Homo sapiens: one gene and its partners. The protein of the gene in region 1 purifies or fractionates together with the protein of each later gene. This does not show direct contact. Each region holds a gene or a part of one and is shown on either strand. Other genes may lie near its edges.

What was found. The genes of interacting proteins can lie anywhere in the genome.
Region 2: the proteins of DUSP8 (region 1) and TIPRL purify together in Homo sapiens (affinity purification with mass spectrometry, with the first as the bait; one large-scale study listed by BioGRID). This does not show direct contact.
Region 3: the proteins of DUSP8 (region 1) and ANKMY2 purify together in Homo sapiens (affinity purification with mass spectrometry, with the first as the bait; one large-scale study listed by BioGRID). This does not show direct contact.
Region 4: the proteins of DUSP8 (region 1) and SPIN1 purify together in Homo sapiens (affinity purification with mass spectrometry, with the first as the bait; one large-scale study listed by BioGRID). This does not show direct contact.

What each region holds. Positions count from the first base shown.
Region 1 is NC_000011.10:1,565,539-1,569,595, reverse strand, and holds part of DUSP8 (dual specificity protein phosphatase 8), read left to right. Parts: exon of another isoform or gene 1-1,647; intron 1,648-3,661; 5' UTR 3,662-3,769; coding exon 3,770-4,000; intron 4,001-4,057. UniProt on the Homo sapiens protein: Has phosphatase activity with synthetic phosphatase substrates and negatively regulates mitogen-activated protein kinase activity, presumably by catalysing their dephosphorylation.
Region 2 is NC_000001.11:168,199,123-168,203,003, reverse strand, and holds the end of TIPRL (TIP41-like protein), read right to left. Parts: intron 3,102-3,881; coding exon 2,958-3,101; 3' UTR 895-2,957; downstream 1-894. UniProt on the Homo sapiens protein: May be a allosteric regulator of serine/threonine-protein phosphatase 2A (PP2A). Isoform 1 inhibits catalytic activity of the PP2A(D) core complex in vitro. The PP2A(C):TIPRL complex does not show phosphatase activity.
Region 3 is NC_000007.14:16,638,861-16,642,917, reverse strand, and holds part of ANKMY2 (ankyrin repeat and MYND domain-containing protein 2), read left to right. Parts: intron 1-4,057. UniProt on the Homo sapiens protein: May be involved in the trafficking of signaling proteins to the cilia.
Region 4 is NC_000009.12:88,464,781-88,468,837, reverse strand, and holds part of SPIN1 (spindlin-1), read right to left. Parts: intron 467-4,057; coding exon 233-466; intron 1-232. UniProt on the Homo sapiens protein: Chromatin reader that specifically recognizes and binds histone H3 both trimethylated at 'Lys-4' and 'Lys-9' (H3K4me3K9me3) and is involved in piRNA-mediated retrotransposon silencing during spermatogenesis.

The DNA of each region.
Region 1 (4,057 bases):
AAGGAGTCTGAAGCTGACCCCTCGGGTACTGGAGTCCTGGGGTTCTCAGGGGATCCTGCATACAGAGGGCAAGGACGTGCGTGTACTCTAGTGTATGTCCAGCCCACGCGTGTGCACATATTCACGCGTGGGTACTTGCACACAGGGCAGGTGGATTGTGGGTAAGGAGCACCAGCCCTGTGTGTGGAGTGGGTGTGCAAAGAGGTGTGTTCTGGCACGCACAGAGGGCAGTGTGCACGCAGCACTGGAGCCAGGCGTGCTGTGTCCCAGGGGAGGGTGGCGGCCTGGTGCCTCCTGGAAGGTGTGGGCCTGGGAGGAGCCTTCTTCTGACTTTGGACTTGGAAACTGCTTCCTCCTGGGCTCAAAGACTTTTGAAAAGGGTGTATGGGGCTGTGCTAGGGGGCATCCTGTCCCCAGCCCTGCCTCTCACCCCCCAACCCCTAGGCACTGGAATAGCAGGGCCACAGGTACTCAGGAGGGCTTGGCATGTGGGGCCGTGAAAGGAGAGGCATGGAACCAACACCATCCACATTTCCTTACCTCTGTTCCCACATGGCCAGTGCTGGCCCCACTGATCTGCACCAGACTGTCCTTAGTGTCTCTGCTCCCCACCCCACCCAACCTGCCCCATCCCTGGCATAGCTGAGCCCCGATCCTTAGCATCTGGGGAGACAGAGGTGAGGAACATGTCCCCCTGGGAGCTGTAGGTCCAGGGAGACCCTGTGGGTGAGGATGCTCTCCCAGAGGCCAGCATGGCACAGAGGCTTCCTGCAGGAGGGGGCACTCGGCCAGCCCTTCGCAGTACAGAGAAGGCCTCTGAGGGGGCGGGGAGCCGGCGAGCTGCAGGGAGCATGCTGGGCACAGCAGGTACCTGGAGTGGGAAGGAAGGTTAGGACCAGGTAGGGCAGAGGAGCGGAGGGGCTGAGGACTGGGCTCTGCACTGCCGGGCACCTGCTGGGGTGGGTAGGAGAGAGCAGGGAGGGGCGCGTGCCCACTCTGCAGAGGAGCCTGCTCCATGGTGGTGGCTGCCGCAGGAGCAGCGGTTGCCTGGCACCTCTGCTGTTGCCATGGTGACGATGGAGGTGCTAACTTGCTAATGAATCCCCTTCGGCTGCAAATAACAATACTATTGTGGGTGATAGGCCCAGCTCCAGCTCAGCGTTGCTTAGGAGGCAGAGCAGGGCCAGGTAAAGGCCAGGACCCGTCCTCCCGCCCCTCCAGCCCCTGCCCACCACCCTGCAGCTGGACTTGCCCTCCTCCCTCCCCTCCCTCTGGGTCTCAGATCTGGCTGGCTGCACCGAGGTCTCTCATGGCAGTGTCAGGACTCAGGGCTGCATGAAGGCTAGGCCCTGGCTGCAGAGAGGGCGAGGGCCTCTCCTCACACCTGCCCTCCTCCCTGCACTGGGGGGTATTTGCTTCTGTTGTTTTCAGTGAGAGAGAATCCACCCCCACTTAACGGATGAGGACATTGAGGCCGGGGCAGCTCCTCAAAAGACCCCCAGCCCAAGTGTCCCTGCCACTGCAGCCTTCTCGGGGTTCTGGGTCTCTGAGCTGGACCCTTGGGTATCCTACGGGGCACCTGGAGCCGCTGTCTCACCAGAACCACACATCTGGGCCCTCGCCTCTCACCACCTGTGCAAGGCTCAGGTAGAACTCGGGAAGGACAAACAGCTCATCAAGGACCCCCTGTGGGTAGTCAGGGACCCCCTTGGCAGGCAGAGACCCTCCACAGCAGGCAGGCAGCAGGCCCTTTTGCTGTTGAACTTGCTGGGTCTGGCCCTGGAGAGGACTCCCAGGCCTCGTTCCCCACCCTGTGGTGGAGGCTGGAGCACCAGCCCAGGAACGTTATCTGAGTGGGATCCTGAGGCCCTGCTGACCAGGTGCCACTGCAATCCCTGGTGTCAGCCGTGGGGTCAGCTGAGGCTGCCCATCCACAGTCAGGTGTTTCCCTGGCCTCTGGCAACAGGAGGGATGGTGGGAATGCACAGAAGCCTGGGCCCAGTCGAGGCGGGAGGGGCCAGGCAGGGGCCAAGCTTGAAGTGTCTGGAGAAGGAGAGTGAGTGCGAGGCTGGGGCTCCTGGGCAGGGAGGAGCTGGGACCTGCCCCTCAGTGTGGAGTTGGGGCTGGGCCAGGGACGAGGTCCACACCAGCCTTGCACCTGCTGCTCTGTGAACTCTCTCACTGGCCCCCGCCGGCCTGGGAGCTGACCTGGAGAGTCCAGAAACGGTGGTGGCCTCTGTCCCCAGCCTGCTGTTTGCAGTGCATGGGTGTCCTCAGGGCGCCTCCCCCCAGTGCCTCCTGTGGCTGTGGGTTGGGGGTCTGGCTTGCTGAGGGCCCGCTACCCACCGTAGCCCGCTTTGCACAGGGCGCAGGGCCCAGGGTACATCTATCTCCCAGCCTTCCCTCAGTCCTGAGCTGGGTGGAGTAAACTTCCTGACTGCCTGGCAGCTGTGGGGGCACAGGGAAGATGGCATTGCAGGGACACCCAGTGCCCATCTGTGTGTGACCCAGGTGTGACCCAGGTCCCAACCCTGCCCCAAGCCTCGGTTTCCCCATAGTTAAAGCAAACTCATCATCCTTAACACTATGCGCCTCCTAGGGGCTGTGAGTGTAAAGTGGACCCAGAGGAAGGCCAGTCCTGGCAGGTGACAGGGAGATGGGGCCCGGCAGTGGGGCAGTGACAGGCTTGTCATCAAGCCTGCAGGAGGGGCTTCCGGAGACTCCATCCTCAGACATCCCTACTCCACCTGCCCACCCGGCAGTCTGAGGCCTTTGCAGGCCATGCCGAGGGCCTGGCACCTGCGGGGTCCCCGACACTGACCCTCCTCCCAGGGCTGCCCCGCCCCTCCCATCCTGGGCCCTATCAGCCCATGAAGGAGCCTCCTAGACCCCAGGCTCCGCTAGGGGAGAGGCACTGTGTGGGTGCAACACGCCCCTGCAGGAGCTGGGCACTCACCCCCAGCAGGCACGTGGCGCACACTAAACCTCAGCCTGCAGGTCAGGAGGGCAGCAGTGGCAAAGGAGCCGTGCCTCTGTGCCTGAGCCCCTCCCGCACCCGCCTGCTATCCGGCTGCCCCCGGGAGCCCACTCTCCAGTGGAGGCAGCCCCAAGGCCACCATCCACCAGGGGCTGGATTATCGGCTTACGGAGCTGCCCTGGAGTCAAGTCTCCAGGGATTGGACTCCCTGGGGCTGTGCTAGGGAGAGAGGGGCAGGTGTGAGGACAGCAAGCCCGGAGGAGGGCAGAGAGCTTGACCATGTGGGAGGGTGAGGTGCAGTCCAGACCCCGACTTGCTGGGGGTCCTGTGGTGGAAAAGATGCAGAAGTCACAGCAGGGAGATGCCTGTGTCCCAGGGATGAGATGGAATGTTCTGGAATGCCTAAGGGTCCGTGAACCCCAGGGCCCACAGGAAGGACCCCTGGCCTCTTCCAGCCCTCAGACCCTTCTCTGTGGGGCCCATTTGCCCCCCTCTGCCTTGTTGCATCCTGCTGAGAGCTGGCCTTGTGACCTGGACGGGGTCTCTCCAGAGGGAGAAGGGTTCCCACGGGCACATGTTGGTGTGTCCTGGTGGGCGCAGCTCCCAGCTCTGATCTGTCCTGGGGAGCTTCTGGGTGCCACCCAGGGGCCCGCAGCACTGCTGACCATCCCCCTGTCCCTGCAGGTCCAGCACCATGTGCTAGGTCACTCCCAGCGCGAGGCCACACCTGGGCCGTCGGAGCAGCCCCTCCTCACTTCAGGGGTCACCCTCCCCAGCACCCATTGCCCCACCATGGCTGGGGACCGGCTCCCGAGGAAGGTGATGGATGCCAAGAAGCTGGCCAGCCTGCTGCGGGGCGGGCCTGGGGGGCCGCTGGTCATCGACAGCCGCTCCTTCGTGGAGTACAACAGCTGGCATGTGCTCAGCTCCGTCAACATCTGCTGCTCCAAGCTGGTGAAGCGGCGGCTGCAGCAGGGCAAGGTGACCATTGCGGAGCTCATCCAGCCGGCTGCACGCAGCCAGGTACCCAGCCCACTGCCCACCAGGCATGCATCACGTCCAGGGTCCACAGCTAAGGGG
Region 2 (3,881 bases), on another chromosome or scaffold:
TCCTGGTGTAGGCCCTTGGGAAAGAACTTGTGAGTGTGTATGAAGTTCCCTTATTTCAGATTCTTGGCTATTCCAAACTGGTATGCTAGCCCACATGTACACTTTAGGAATTTCTTAAAATTTTTGCCAATATTTTACCTGTTTATATAAAGGCCATCTCTTTCTCTTGGGTTCTTCCTAAGGTTAAACAGTCAGTATGTCCCATCTCTCCTTGTAGGGCTTATCACTCTTTGGGATTTGGTTTGTTTGCCTTGTAATTTCAGTTCTTTGATATGTTCAAGAAAAAAAGCTTTAATTTTATAGATGACCCAGCCTTTTCTCCTTGTTAAAATGGGAATGACAGTCTCTTGAGGTTTTCCACATCTTCTTGAGAAGCAGAGCTCTGACTACCTCTACTAAAGTTAGTTGATTTTCTGTTACTCTCTTGTCAGTATCATTTCCATCACTGCACATATTAAAATTAGTAATTTTTTTACTTTGTCTCCTCCATTAGACTTTAATCCTATAAAAACATATACTACATCGCTTCATTGTTGTAATCTATTATACCTAGCACCATAATTGTACATATAGTACTCAAAACTAATACATACGACAGGTATTCATATTTTCAAAAACCAAAAACATTAACCCAACATACAGAAAATACTGTTAAAAAACATCCATGGAAATATTGATGAACAGAGGGAGAGGAGAGGCAAGAGCCCAAATGCAAACTGGGAAATTGTATTCTGAACCATCAGTTAGGTTTTAATTTATAACCTGCCTGGAGACTGTCTACAGTGTTGACTGAGTTCAAAACATAAAGCACAAATAAGAAAAGTATACCCCAAACCACACTTCTTTAATTAAGCTCTAAGAAAAACTCAAATAAATGAAATAGTAAAACTTTGATCAGTAATTCCTTATTGTTTATTCTCCTCTTACAAAAAGACACTTGGGACAAATAAATACAAAATGGCATATATCATATTTAGCAATGGGCAAATACACATTTTCTTGGTATTCTCCACAAGAATAAACTAATAAAATTTTCAGAGGCATACTCTTCTACCCATCTCTTACCCTCTAAAAAAAAAAAAGGCAATTATTTTAATTCCCTGTAATTTTTAACAATGAATTCTCAAAATAAGTAATCTAGGACTATTCAGGGACCAAGACATCTGAATCAACAAGTTAAAAAAAAAATGTCTGTATACACACACACACACACACACACACACACACACACACGATGTTGCCCAGAAGCTCCAATTAATGAAGAGTCTTAAAAGTTTTTCATTTCATATAGTTTGCATGAATAGAGCCTGTTCTATTCTAATCTCAATGGCAAATAATATAAAACAGAAAGCTGAACACAACATGTGTGTGTGTGTGTGTGTGTGTGTCTACTTTTCTGTCCTAAGAGAAAACATTAAATACAGGTATATTTAATATACAGTGAACATACCATGTGTTTTCTTAAAGCCAACAAAATCCTGATTTCCTATAGCTTGGAGGTGATACAGAAGGCAGAAGACAAATATCAAATTTAGCTAATAAAATATACCCTGCCTATTGGCTCCAGCAATACACTATAGAGTTTGAGCAATGACGGATACCCAAGTGTATATGTTTTGTTAAAATTTATCTTCAGGCTAATACCTGAAGAGGTTGGCTAATACTTTAAATCAAATATTCTTACTTAATGATTTATCCATCAAATGGAAATATGTACAACATATTTCAAATCAGAAAAGGGGTGAATTTTCCCCCTGCCCTTCAAAAAAATATTTTTAAAAATCCACTTGAAATAATTTCTTATTTGATGCTTTTTAATCACTTTCCACTTTATGACAACCATTTTTCTAGAAAGGCAGACAAGAATATAAAATGACTAAGGGGTCACTATGAAAACAATCAAATGGATTTGAAATTTACTTCTGTGTATTTTCTGTACTCCCTAAGTCTTGTGCTAATTAATTACATTTTACTTCATCCCCTGTAATGTTACAAATATGCACCTTAAAATAGAAAAACTTGCTTTTATATTTTAAAACCCCCTCCTCCTTACCTATCTTCCCAAATATTTTAAGCAGAAAATTAATCTTGTTGCTTTAAGGATTGATGTAATATTTGCGAAAAACAACCCCTAATAAACCCTTTAGACTTTTTCGAACCAGCACCAAATTTAAGGGGTTTATTCACTCTGAGGTTGCATGGAAGATGGAAATTAAAAATATCAGTATAAGTAGAACCACATTTAAGAAAAAGCACCTAAAGATGGAGGACAGATAATTCTAACATCCTACACACACACAGTGGTAAACCATATTCATGTTTCTATGTATGTAATAAGTTCTCCAAAAATCTAGGTATTTTTGGTTCTGGTACTAAGTCTAAATTTTTTTTTTTTAAATTTCAAAGGCAATTTAAAACTGGGGGGAAATACATTTTTAAAATTTTGGGGTTGAAGTTCACTACACTATGAGACTAATTTCGTATGTGGCAAGTTGCAACTCTCCAAAGGTGTGAATAAACATCAGAAAGCCCAAAGTGAAGAGCCAGTACATCAACATGCATGATCAGGAATCCTATGAAAGTCACAAGGCATTGGGATTTGGTGATTTACATTAACCTCCTCCTGGTAGAAGATAGTGTTTCATGATGAATGCAGACTGTGCTCACTGCTCATGAGACACACACATCACTACTGCTGAGGTCCCACTTTGTGATAATTTAGAAATCATCCAAATTTAACTCCAGAAAATATAAATCTGGAATATGAATGTGAAGACAGACAGTACAAACAGCAGTTGAGTGAAACCTGCCTGTAACGATCTTTATTTTTTTTTCCTTTAAGGCTACAGAAAATCTGTACATAAACAAGGCAATTAATTCTCATAATAAAAATAACCCCTTACAAATAGCCAAGGTGTCCAGTCAGATTCCATAGTGAGTATATGTTGTATCACATTTTATTCCACTTGTGTACTTTTTTGTGAGTCTGCTGGGTTAGGATCAATTCTTTCTGGAAATATTAGCTTCTCACAAACTGCTTCCTTTATTGGTAAATACTGGGATATTTCATTAGGTTCCGTGAAGAGGGAAGGTGGAACATGCTAGGAAATACATAAATCATATTAGCATATTCAGTTACTGTACTGAAATTTTTTACAAATGTTTTGGTTCAAGCATTCATAAAGCATGGAAATTTTAAAATCAGGTGCAATATATGCATATGTGCTCCTAAAAATAATAGGTATTTCTTGATACGGAATCATTCAACTTTGTTACTGAATGATTTCATCAAAGATCACAGGGTTATATAATCTATAATGTTCCCACAAATGTCCTAAGAATTTAATACATCTTAATCCAACCCTATGTATCTCCTGCTTTTGTAACTTGAAAACACTAGTCTTCGGTTAGAGCACAGCATGTAGTCTACAATAGAATCTAAGTAGTAACTTTTCTGTTCCAAGTATACTCTATACCCAGACAGAAGTACATACTAAGCGTGAAAAAATAAAATCAAGTTTATAGGAAGGTACCAATTTTTAAGCAACCCATTATAGAATCCTAAGTTCTAAGGAAGGCTTCACAGGTCCCGGGGAGTAAAAAATAAAGAAAAATGATGCCAAAACAAACAAATTATGGTACAGAATCACCACATTTTCGGAAGAGAAAAGGAGACTATGTAGAAAGAAATAAGGCGGCAGGGTGGTAAGTGTAAAGAACATCCATCACCAGCCAGCTATGTGACTCAGAGTAAGTCACACCTCTGGGTTTCAATTTCTCTAGAACAAAATGTGAAAATTAGATTAGATGAGGCTTAAGTACCTAGCAGCTCTAAATGTTCTTGTATTTGAGGTAAGGTCAGAAAAGTTATGCTCCCATAG
Region 3 (4,057 bases), on another chromosome or scaffold:
TGTACCTAAAAACAAACTAAACAAAACATGAAACAGTACCATAGCAGTCCATACAATATTCACTTTGAGAGGTCATTTAGTTCTAGCAAAACAACATCTGTCAAGTTAACTCAGTTTTAAATGTTACTGATTTTGTAGTTCTGTGTGCATTAAATTTAAAGTAAATTTTTATTTTATAGTTGAAGAAAGGCCATAAGCAAAGTTTATATTTGTGCCAAAAAGAGGCATTTTTTTTAAAGTGGGTGAAGTGAGTTTTTTTTTTTTTCTTTCATACGTTTTTCAACTTTGAAAAACTCTAGATGAGACAATAAGTTCTAGTACTTTGAACTAACAACTTTTCAGCAAAGTCTAGCCTGGCATCTTGGTCAATCTGAAATAAACTCGGCAAATATTTAAGTGATTCCCATCTGCCAGCCACTGCTCTCCAGAAAGACAGACTCTAAGTGGGGCTTTTTATTTATTAGAATGCCAAGAAGTTCCAGATGAAAATGAAAATCTGTTTCCAACATACCCATTTAAATCATAGTTAATGACAGCATTCATTTAACAGTATGTAAGAGGAAATTGAAATCACTGAACTGTGTTTAACTGGCTTATATGACTTGTAGAGTTACCCATTCTTCTAAGCTTTGATACCTTTTTCATTAATCTCAGAGCAAGCACTATTATGAAATAAATTAAACCTTTTTTAAGGCTATGAGCTAGATAATTTTCACATTACTTCTCTTATTTAGTACCTGAAATTCCTGGGCTTACTGTTGCTAACAAGAAAGTATTATACTTCCTTTTTTTTTTTCATATCTGTGTAAAGGAGCTATGAAACAAGTTTGGATAATAAGGCTTTTTCTTACCAACTATTGAGATACAATAAATTGCACATATTACAGGTAGTACACACTTTTTAATCAGTTTTGATTTAAACATACATCTGTGAAACCATCAGTAAGATCAACATAATGAACATCTTCATCACCCCCTAAAAAGTCCTTATGCCTCTTTGTGATCTGTCACTAACTTCACCCCCATCTGCAGGCAACCACTAACAGATCTCTGCCTCTGTTGATTAGATTTCTCTATTCTAGAATTTTATATTAGTAGAATCATACAATAAGTATCCTTTTTTTGAGGGGGGGCTGGCTTCTTTCATTCAACATTATGATTTTGGGGTTCATATTTATTATGTGTACCAATAGTATGTAGCTTATTTTCTTCTTTTATTTCCAGTGGAAGGATATACTACTATTTGTGCATCCATTCCCATTGATGCCCAATTGTTGTTTCCAATTTGGGACTATTGAAATAAGATCCTGTTCTAAGGTCCTGTGTCGTTAATAATACTTCTGGTGTCTTTATGGTTGAGAAACATTCAAGTCTGCTTATAACCAATTATAGTACAGAGTTCAAAGAAAAAATTAAAATATATGGTTACCATTAGTTGGATGGCTGGACAGGTTATGCAACCTATATGGGCTTCATTGTCTTCATTTTCACAGCAACAGCTCTTTTAGATACTCCCAATTTTATACAGTGCTCTGTAATACTAATTTAAGATCATTTTTTTACAAAGTCTAAAAATAGATATGAGTAGGAGACCTTTTAGAAACATCGCACAAATTCACGATTTCAAAATGCATGTTATAATTAGAAGTCTCCACTATGTGTGTGTGTGTGTGTGTCTGTGTGTGAGACAGGGTCTCACCCTGTCACCCAGGCTGGAATGCAATGGTGCGCTCTCGGCTCACTGCAACCTCTGCCTCCCAAGTTCAAGCAATTCTCCTGCCTCAGCCTACTGAGTAGCTGGGATTACAGGCGTGCACCACCGCGCCCGGCTAATTTTTGTCTTTTTAGTAGAGATGGGGTTTCACTTTTAAAATATATTTATAGCTTTATATCTATGATTATATCAAAATCTATATCCATATGTTCTTGTTTTAAAATTAAGGCACTTTAAACATTTTTACATGATTTTACTTATACGTAAACACTATAACAACTAACAAAGCCAAATAGATTTCTAAATCCTTAACTTGATTATATATTCCTTAAAATATCCGTTTTCGTGGCTTCCAATAAATAATGATTGCAATCCAGCTGGACATAGTGGCTCATGCCTGTAGAGTGACCCCTCTGCACTTTGGGAGGATCCAAGAGGATCACTTGGACCCAGGAGTTTGCCACCAGCCTGGGTCTCAATATAGTGAGACCCCGTTGTTACAAAAAATGTAAAAATTAGCTGGGTGCGGTGGCGTGCACCTGTAGTCCTAGCACCTCAAGAGTCTGAGGCAGGAGGATTGCTTGAACCCAGGAATTCAAGGCTGCAGTGAGCCATGATCATGCCACTGCACTCCAGCTTGGGCGATGGAGGAAGGCCCTGTATCTATAAAAAATTAAAACAATAATAATGAATAACGATTGAAATCTATACGTGTTTGAATCTCATGGTTGTGTGATGAATTGCTGAAAACAGAATGTTTGTTTCTCCTGTTCTGTTTGTTTTGGCTGCATCTTCTTGTCTTTGGTAGAGACCCGTGTTCCCGATCTAGATATTAGAAATGTTACAATGAATTATATTGTGCTGCTCTGAATACAAAATAAAAAGAAGATCTAATAAAGGCTTATATGTGCTCCACATTAGGACACTCCTCAGATAACTGTGGGATGGATATTGTTATCCTTATTTCATAGATAAGGAAACTGAGAGTTTTACAGGTCTTTTTATTTACTTTTATTTATTTATTTACTTATTTTTTTGAGACAGAGTCTCGCTCTTGTCGCCCAAGCTGGAGTGCAGTGGCGCGATCTTGACTCACTGCAACCTCCTCCTCCTGGGTTCAAGCAATTCTCCTGTCTCAACCTCCTGAGTAGCTAGGACTACGAGCACGCACCACTACACCTGGCTAATTTTTGTATTTTTTTTTTTAGTAGAGATGGGGTTTCACCATGTTGGCCAGGCTGGTCTCAAACTCCTGACCTCAGGTGATCCATCCGCCTTGGCCTCCCAAAGTGCTGTGATTACAGGTGTGAGCCACCATGCCTGGCCAAGTTTTGCAGGTCTTGTTCCACTTTATAGTATTCCTGAAAAAGCTATAATGTAGTAGAAGAGAGAGCAGTAACACTAAGAATATCATTCTCTTTTGAGACAGGGTCTCACTTTATTGCCTAGGCTGGATTACAGTGGCATGATCATAGCTCACTGCAGCCTCAACTTCCTGGGCTCAAGCAATCCTCCCACCTCAGCCTCCTGAGTAGCTGGGACTACAGGTCCATGCCACCACACCTTGCTAATTTTTTAGAAAATTTTTTGTAGAGATGGGGTCTCACTATGTTGTCCATGCTGGGAAAATATTATGTACATAATCTTTTCTCTCCTAAAATGCTTGTTCATCCAGATAAAGTGATCAATTCCACCCTAATGAGGCAGGTTATGCTGTATTTTCTTCTTTGGTTTGAGCAGTTGGAGGAATTCTCTAAAGGGAAATAAATCACTAATTATTACTTTAATTAGTTTAGGTCTGTTGTTTCTTATCTCCAATGAAGGTAAATGTTGGCTCCTTGCACATCCCTTCTTATAGTACTCTATCTTCCACCCCCAGCAGTTTGTTAAATCAGATTTAACATATTTATTTCCCAGAATAAAGCAATTAATCTTTTACACTTACTTGTAAAATATTATTTAAGTCTACTATGGACAGTAGGAATGACATAAAGTAAAAATCCTTCTGTGTGAGCCATGTGTTTCACATTTCCATGCTATTCTGGACCTTCTATAATTTCCGACTAATGTCATTACATTGTGAACACCGAATTGGAAATCATCACAGTTTTTCCTCTTGGAGTGTTTTGCTCATCCATGTTCCAAATCTATTTTTACCCTCTAGAAGCCCAATCTGTTTCAGATTATTTTTCTCATTCCAGCCCCTGCATTTCAAAAGGCTAACCTTAGTGTGATTGTGGGTACGTGTACATGTAGGATATAATAAGAAATATCTATTTGGTCTCTGCCACTGGCTCCTAACACAGAGCTCCTAAAACCCTTATAATCTCCTGAACAATGGGG
Region 4 (4,057 bases), on another chromosome or scaffold:
AAACAACTTGTATCTTATTACAGAAGCCAAGCAGAACTGACTATCAAATATTTTCTTATCTAACATTTATAACAACTGGATGAAAAATTTCAAAGGCTGTGTTTGTGCATGACTAAAAGAATCATATATCCAAAAATAAAAATGTATCTGCAAAAGAGCCAATCAAATATCTTGTACTGAAGTCCAAATCCCTTCTAATTATCACATATAAAAGTTGCCAATATATACTTACTGGAATCAGGCATAATGCGAAGGTCGCCTTCTTTGTAATCATCTAAGAGTTGGTACATGTACAAGACAGGGTCTTTCTCATAGGTAATGTAAAACCATGTGTTCATGACAGGTGCACGTGCTAAGACCATTCCCCTCCACTCATCTTTAGAACCATCCTCTGTCTCAAACATATGTTCCACTGCTTTGCCAATCATTGTGTCTGCCAAGTGTGCATCGCTGATTCGAGATGTCGCTGGGGATTAAAAAAAAAAAAAAAAAGTTGACAAAGTGTTTCGCTGATTACCGACTATGAAGACTGAATTTACTAAAGAAGGCTACACCTGAAATTTTGTCCATGCAACGTATTAGCAAGCATCAGAATCTGGGAAAGCTTTAAAAAGTACAAAAACCAAAGACAAACTACTGGGCCCCAGCTCAGAGATGGATTCAACAGAATAGAAGTATTTTGTCCCAAGTCAGTTAATTGAAAAAAATATGATTTTTTATTTTTCTGGACTCATCTGCTCTTGGTTCTGTACCCAAATCAAAAGTTTTAATTGTTCATTCAAGGTATAAAATACTGTTTGTTATTGTTTACTTAACAGTTAAATTTTGAGATAATTTCAGACTTACAGAAGAACTGGAAAAATAGTAGAGTTCCTGTATACGGTTCACTTTGCTTCTCCTGTATTAGCATCTTACATAACCACAGAACGTTTATTTAAAACTTAGAAAAGCTATTCAAGGCACAGAGGGTTTTTTTTTTGTTTTTTTTTTTTAAAGAAATTGGTGTTTGTTTTCCTTCAGTCTTATTTCCATTTTTTTATTAAGGCATAGGTTTTTACTCTCTTGCTCCTACAATCTTATTCTTCACTGCAACCAAAGTAATCGTTGTGTCACTGATACCACATTGTGTGATCTAAAATGTTCCCATGCCTTCCCTTTATAATTTGAAAAACAACCAAACTGCTCACCATAGCCCCCAAGCCCTAAAAGCCTTCACGCCTCTGCCCTCAGGTTTCCCATCTTCCTCCTTGTTGTTCATGCGTTCTCTACTCTGCTCTTCTTCCTCTCCCATTAGGACACACTCTCCTCTGCCTGATAAGCTCTTCCCCATACCTTCAGAAGGCCGGTTCCTTTTGGAGTTCTCCTGACCAACAAGGTAGCCCCACAAATCCCAGTCACATTACCCAATTTTACCTCTTAATAACATTCACCATGATCTAAAGTTATCCCACTTTATGTTATTTGTGTACTTGTTAGTTGCTTGTACATCCCCATGAAAGCAGAGACCTTCCCTTTCTTGTTTTATACCTAGATCATAGCAGGTCAGTATTTGTATGATTTAATCAGATACCCCATGTGGTTGGGAGCTCAGGTCTCTGAAATGATAGATTAACGGTCCTAGCCCTTAATATTTTTCAAAAGTGGTGAAAATTATCACCTTCATCTTTTTAATACTGGAAAAACTATGAAGGATCCCATTGGTTTTAAGACTTCTCCAGTCCACAATTTTAGATAACTGTCTTTATACCAAATTTAAACAATTATCTTTAAAAAACAAACAAACAAACAAACAAACAATTAGAGACAAGCACGGTGGCTCACGCCTGTAATCCTAGCACTTTGGGAGTCCAAGGCGGGCGAATCACTTGAGCCCAGAAGTTTGAGGCCAGCCTGGGCAACATGACAAAACCCCGTCTCTACTAAAAATACAAAAAATTAGCCAGGTGTGGCAGTGCAGGCCTGTAGTCCCAGCTACTGAGAAGGCTCAGGTGGTGAATCACCTAAACCCAGAGGTCGAGGCTGCAGTGAGACAAGATGGCGCCACTGCACTCCAGCCTGGGCTACGGGAGTGAGGCCCTGTCTTAACAACAACAAAAACAACAACAACAAACAATTAGCTCTCCTATTTTCCTCATTCAACAAACTTCTATTTCTGTTACATCAAAAGAAACAAAAAAGTGAGATTTTCTTGATACATGTATTGCTATTTAATTTTATCAGCAAACCCTAAACATGTATGGCTGGTTTTAAGTACGCAGTAATAATAAAAAATTACACAGAATTCCCCCCGTGTATGACAGTAAAAAAACCCCACTAGTTTCTTAAAGCCAGTAGATCTCAGACTTAGATCTCAGAACTCCATGTGCATTCTTAAAAATTACTGGCTGGGCACAGCGACTCACATCTATAATCCTAGCACTTTGAGCCCCAGGCAGGAGGATTGCTTGAGGCCAGGAGTTTGAGACCAGCCTGGGCAACATAATGAGATCTCATCTCTACAAAAAGTTAAAAATTAGCAGGGTACTGTGGTGAGTGCCTGTAGTCCCAGCAACTCAGGAGACTGAGGCAGGAGGACTGTTTGAGCTCAACGTGTTGAGACAGCAGTGAGCCCTGATCACACCACTATACTCCAGCCTGGGTGACAAAGCGAGATCCTGTCTCTAAAAAAAAAATTAAAACATAAATGGAAATTACTACAGACCTAAAAAAGCATCTGTTTACATAGATAATGCCTACCAATATTTACTACTTCAGAAAATGAAAAACAAATCTAGAAACATTTATTTAAAAATACCTATATATCAATGCATTTTAAATTAAAAATAACTATTTCCTATCAAAATACATTAAGAGTGGCTTAATTTTACATTTTTGCAAATCTCCTAATGTCTAGGTTTTAAAAAGAACAAGTAGATTCTCATATCTGCTTTAGCACTCAATCTGTTATGATCTGCTCTTTCAGTTCAGGTATAAAATCCAGCCTCTCAAAGATATGATACTGAAAAGAATATTCTAATCGTCTTTCAGATAATTCTAGATATACTTATATGAAACCACAGAATTCAACAGTTAGCTCCTTAAAGGTTAGTTACAATGCAGAATCTGAAACCATTAATAAATCTGTCATACTGTTACATTAAAACTCATGTCTCCAGAACATATAAAGAACTCTCACAACTCAACAAAAATCAAAATAACCTAATTAAAAAATGGTCAAAGGATGTGAGTAGATATTTCCCCAAAGATGATTTACAAGTGGCCAACAAGCACATAAAAAGATGCTCAATATCACTAATCATCAGAGAAATGCAAATCAAAACAAAATGAGGTATCGTATCACACCCATCAGGATGACCACTATGACAAAAACAGTAAATAGCAACTGCTGACTAAGGGATGGAGAACTGGAACCCTTGTATACTGTAGGTAGGACTGGAAAATGGTACAACTGCTGTGGAAAACAGTATGGTAGTTCTACCTAAGAAATTAGAATTACGATACTAAAATTAAAATTATAATTACCATATGATCCAGCAATCCCACTCCTGTGCCTATATCCAAAACAACTGAAAGCAGGATCTCAAAGAAATATCTGCATATCCATGTTTACAGGAGCACTATTCACAATTTTACATGGTACAATTTTACATTCTACCAAGAGGTAGAAGCAATCCAAATGTCCATTAATGGGTGAACAGATAAACAAACTGTGGTATATAGATACAATGGAATGTTCTTTTCAGCCTTAAAGGAAATCCTGTCACACGTTACAACATGAACCAACTTTGAGGACATTATGCTAAGTGAAATAAGTTACTCACAAAACAAATACTGTGTGATTCCACTTCTATGAGATATCTAGAATAGTCAAATTCATAGAGACAGAGTGTAGAATGGTGGTTGCCAGGGGCTGGGAATGGGAGGAAAGGTAGGTTGTTTTGTTTAATAGGTAGAGAGTTTCAGATTTGTAAGATGAAGTAGTTCTGGAGATCTGTTTCAACAATGCGAATGTACTTAACACACTACTGAACTGTACACTTAAAAATGGTTAGGACAG